Linked DNA regions of Homo sapiens: region 2 is linked to region 1. Evidence: fine-mapped expression QTL. Tissue or cell type: Th1 cells. Region 1 holds a variant in brackets; the other region holds the start of a gene. All regions are shown on one strand. Distances are between the middles of the regions.

Region 1 (2,685 bases):
AAGAGCCAATGGAAATTCTAGATCTGAATAATAGTATAACTGAAGTAACAGTCGCTGAGAAAATCAGGGGAAGAAACTAGAATGCAGCACAGAGAGACAAAGAGAAAGAAAACAGAGAAGACAAAAAATCTAGAAAGCACAGTGAGAAGGATTTAACTTATATTTAGAGTCCCAAAAGAACCAGAGAGAGAAAATGGGGCAGAAAAAACAGTTGAGAGATAAATAACAGCCAGGAAATTTCCAGAATCCCAGCAGAGATCTCAAACTTGACAACAACAAAAAAATTCCCACAGACATATTAGAGGAAAACTTTAAAAACTCGAGATTAATATAAATGTCTAAAAATCAGCCAGAAAATAGAGAACAGATTATTTTAAGATGAGCAACAACTGAACTTCCAAGAACAAGGCAGAAAATGATGGAATAGCCTCAATCTGTGAGGAAAAAATAACTATCAATATAGAATTCCATACCCAGTAAAAATATCATTCTAGAATTAAGTGAATATCCATACTAACTAAAACATCAAATAAACCCTAAACAGTGAAAAAAAAAATTAACCAAATAAAGGCATCACCAGACATACAAAAGCCAAGAACATGTGCCATAAAATGACTAAAAAATTTAAAAGGATTTATTGGAAGTCACCATAAAGCAAGTGAAAAGTACAGTCACAAAGTAGAGGATATCTGCAACACATACAACCTAAGGATTAATGGAATTGCTAAGAGTCAATATGGAAAAAGACAGACACCCCAATAGAAAAAAATGGGCGATCAGTAAAAACATTTTTCAAAAGAGAAACATAGGTGGCCAATAAACCTAAGAAAGAATAATCAGCCTTATAGTAATCAGGGAAATGTAAATTAAGTTCACAATGAAATATCATTTATATGCACCAATGAGTAAAAATTTAAAAGTCTGACTGTGTTAGTGAGAATACAGAGGAATAAGAACTCTGACACAGTCCTTCTGGGAGTAAAAACATGCACAATCATTTTTTAGAAAAGTTTGGCTTTATCTAAGAAGCATAAACTATATAGTCTATGACTAAAAAATCCCACTCCTTGGCATGTACCTTAAGAGAAACCCACAGATGTTCATCATGAGACATAATAAAAGTGTTCATAGCTCCACAGCTTTTAAAAGCCATAAGCTGAAAACAACTCAAATGTCTATCAAGAACAAAAATGGATAATTAAATGTGTCATATCTATAATAATAATATACAACAGTGAAGCCGGGTGTGGTGGCTCACTCCTGTAATGCCAGCACTTTGGGAGGCTGAGGCGGGTGGATCATTTGAGGTCAGGAGTTCGAGACCAGCCTGGCCAACATGGTGAAACCCCATCTCTACTGAAAATACAAAAAAATTAGCCGGGCATGGTGGTGGGCGCTTGTAATCCCAGCTACTCAGGAGGCTGAGGCAGGAGAATTGCTTGAACCCGGGAGGCGAGGGTTGCAGTAAGCCAAGATTGCGCCACTGCACTCAAGCCTGGGCAACAGAGAAGACTCCGCCT[C/CA]AAAAAAAAAAAAAAAAAATACAACAATGAAAATGAATAAACTATAGTTACTAACAAAAACAGAGATGAACTTCAAAGACGGTATTAAGCAAAAGCAACAGGTCACAAAAGAGGACACGCAGTGTAATTCCATTTCTATGAGGACAAAGCAGACTGCATGCTTTCTAAGAGGTCAAACTATTAAGAATGGTAAACAAATGATTATTAGAAAAGTCAGAATAATGGTAAACAGAAGAAAGAGAATTTAATTGGGGATGCTGGCAATGTTCTACATCTTGTCTTTAGGGTAATTAAGGTTATTTCTTTAAATATCAGAGTAACATATTTACGTACTTTATCTCACAATAAAGCCAATTTGGTAAGTGGCAATTTGTTCATACTTTAAACATTTTGAGTATTTATAATATTTAAGAATTATCTGGTCTATTAGCCTAACAGTTCAGCCTCCTAAATCCAATCTAAAAATGTGTAAATGAGTAATCAACATGGACTTGTACTAATCATTTTAAAGTAGAAATCTTATTAAGTTATCTGAGGCATTGAAATAGCCAAGATAATTCAAGGTTCTACATATTAAGACTAATTTGTTCTATTTATAAAAGATACTTATGTACTTGAAAAGGTTTTAAATCAGGGAACAGAGGTTCTTGAAATAGAAACTGAATATACTGAATTTAGAAATGCACTTTTAAATGTTTTTAAAATTCTACTAAGGTTGTAAATGTGACTACACATTATCTAAAAGCTCCTTACTTCAAAGTATTTGCTGAAATTTGCTAAACTCATCAATAGAAAAAAACAAACAAAAAACCACGAGTTTGACCTTAGAAACTTAAGAAAGAACTAAATCTCTGGATTTATATCCTTAAGAAATCATCTTTTTAGAGCAAACTTCTAAATAATATTTGTCTACCAACTTGTTCAGAAGACACAAAACAATTCACATTTAATGCTATTTTTCACATTATATAAAAGCAAACGAAAAAACCTATGCCAGAAGTTTTTTTTTAATTCCCAAACACCAATTTATATGCCGGAAGATTTTGAGGGTTAATTTTAATTAAAATTTGTCTAGGATTATACTCAAAAACACAAAACACTTGACAGTTGATATGGTGACATATGCTACTTTCAAAGAAGTTACTGTTTACTTTTTTGGGGGTAG
Region 2 (2,685 bases), 590 kb after region 1:
GAGGGACTTTGGCCTGGATTGGAAGCTGTAAGGAAGCAAGGATAATTCTATAATTGGGTATTTTAATAAGTATTATGTAGAAGGAAGGAAGACTAGACTGAGGTTAAAACTATAATTGGTAAAGAAGCAGCAGGCACTCATATTAGCTAGGATAAGGAGATATTTGATCATTTTTATGGCTTGGGCAATGTTGATGTTGTGTCTGTGTTCACATATGATTATAGAGTGATCTTACTTTTGTCTTGATCTATCACGGTCACAACTCTGTCTTGTCTGATGTTCTGTGAAATTGTTTATGTTCAACAGAAGAATACCAATGCTTGGCTGTGATTGCCAGGCCAGCTCAAAGCAACAGCAAACCAAGCTGGTAGTACCAGGCCATCTCCTGGATGTCAAGGTCTGCTTTTCTCTTTCTCGGTATCCACACTAGAATCCTTGATTTACTCTCTTCCACCTCACTCAATCAAAAACCATTACCTCACAGACTTCCCTTCTATGTGGCACTACCACCCACACATATGCTAGCCCAAAACCTAAGATTCACTGTTGATGATGCCCTTTTCTTCATTTTCCATAGCCAATCACCAAATCCCATTGTCTTCTTTCTTTTATTTCTTCCGCCATTGTTCTGGTCCAAACTACCATTATGTTTCTCCTAAACATAAAGTGCATCCTATTTCCTCTGCTTCCACACTTGCCCCTCTACAATCCATTCTCTTCATAACAGATAGATCATATTACTCCCTTGCTTTAAAACTTTCAAATAGCTTCCAATTGTACTCAGAACAAACACTAAACTTCTTACCCTGGCTTTCAAGGACCCTGGTCTGGCTTCTGCCTAACTCTCCACCTTCATCTATCTGGGACTATCTTGCGGCTCACTCACTATGCTTCCCCCACACTGGCCTTTCCTGCCCTGCCCCTGCAACATACCAAGTTCCTCTTTCTCTCTGCATTTGCCCTATCCTTTCTTTGCCAGGACAACAGTCTCCCTACCAGCTCTTTCTCATCCAGGTCTCTTTGAGAGGGCTTCCCTGACCATCTAGATGCCACCTTCCTGGTCAGTATTTCCCTCAAGTAGTAATCAATGCCGGAAAGAATACTGTTCATTTATTCATCCGTTATTGTCATCGCTTCATTGGAATTTAGCTTCCTACAGGGATGGTGTTTATCTTGCTCACTATGATTCCAGCCCCTAGAAAAACCCACCTACCTCATAGCCAAGGGCTCAGTAAATAGTATACACTGCCTTCCTGCCACTGTGCTAATTTCTACTAACACAGCCACAAACAATCAGCAATTACATTTTCTGCTTGTTTTTAACGGGGAAGTAGGGCACTCAACGAAAAGGAAATAAAAGCAGAGTCAAGAAAGTGCCTTTTATCCATGGAGTGCCCAATGTGTTGTGCGGCCGGCCACGTATATAGGGATGTGTCAGCACCTGAGATTTTTCCTTCTCTGAGCTAGCTTCTTTCCTGGAAATCATGCTGGGCCCTTAGCCTTATGGTTCACCCTGTTTTTTAAGATCATCCACGGGCTTCATTCCCGTAACCGCTCTTCTAGCTGGCCAAGGCGGCGGGAAGAAACCCCACCCTCTTGCGCAAACGCCCAGTAGCGGAATCCGCGGGGTCGAGGGCTTTAGTGTGCGCATGTGCAACCAGAGCGGCGGCGGGAAGTGTTGCGCAGGCGCATCCGATCGACTCGGTAGGTGGGGATCTCTTGGAGACGGCGACCCAGGCATCTGGGGAGCCACAGAAGTCGTACTCCCTTAAACCGTGAGTTTCCGACGGTTTGTTCCATGGCGCGGGATTGTGAGGGATTAGGAACGAATTCTGGATCGTGACTTCGGTTTTCTCGCCGTGCAGTTCCTTTTCCCGCCCCCCTTCGGATCCCTCCGACCTGCGGCGGGAAAGTCGCGCGCCTGCGCACTAAGCATCTGGTTCGGTCTCTGGCCCGAGGGAAGCCGGTCCTTCCCGGCTGAGCTCGCGGCCAGCGCTGGCCGGCGGATTCCCATTCATTCACCCTTCTCCTCCTCCGCCCAGTACTCGTGGCCAGGGTCGTATCAGTTCTCCGTCAACTTGCTTGGGGCCTTGGACGAGCCTCCTGGCGCTTCCTGTCAGTGGCGAAAAGGTTTTCTCCCTCAGTTCTTTTCCTGACTTCAAACCGCCCCCGGCGCTCGGCCCCTCCCCCACGCGGTCCCGCTGGCTGTGCCGGACTGGCAGCCTCGCCGTTTCCCACTGCGCCTGCTGCTGCGCGGGTGCCCAAGCCGGGAAATTCTCCCTGCAGCCCCCTGCCGGTGTTTCTGATAGGTGAAAATAAAGCACATGGAATTCCTTAGACAAGGCCACAGTATGCCCTACTGTGGAGGTTTGGACACATCGTGCGTTTGAAAATGTTTGCCCCTTTGGGGGGCAGTAGCATGTTTTTAGTGCGTGGTTTAGCGAGTGATCTAAATTTCTCTAGTGTTCTAATTTTCACAGCTGCTTTGCTCCCCCTGTGGATGTAACCCCTTAGCTGGCATTTTGCATCTCAATTGGCTTGTGATGGAGGCGTCTTTGGGGATTCAGATGGATGAGCCAATGGCTTTTTCTCCCCAGCGTGACCGGTTTCAGGCTGAAGGCTCTTTAAAAAAAAACGAGCAGAATTTTAAACTTGCAGGTACGTGTTTAAATCCAAAGATGTACA

Evidence for each region. PIP is the estimated chance that this variant, and not a neighbour inherited with it, causes the effect.
Region 2: CDC7 starts here. The variant in region 1 is fine-mapped to the expression of CDC7 in Th1 cells (Schmiedel 2018, PIP 0.95).

The regions. Positions count from the first base shown.
Region 1 is chr1:90,908,497-90,911,181 of GRCh38, forward strand. No RefSeq gene overlaps it. Among named protein-coding and RNA genes, the nearest start is that of LINC01763, 58 kb to the left of the region's middle. The variant C/CA (reference allele first, on the strand shown) is at 1,521.
Region 2 is chr1:91,499,174-91,501,858 of GRCh38, forward strand. CDC7 (cell division cycle 7) reads left to right here and starts at 1,678. Exons shown (of 12, transcript NM_003503.4): 1 at 1,678-1,775; 2 at 2,481-2,658. The coding sequence starts at 2,544. It overlaps LOC105378856 (a long non-coding RNA gene), which reads right to left and starts at 1,675. Exons shown (of 3, transcript XR_947599.4): 1 at 1-1,675. RefSeq lists an enhancer at 2,320-2,519.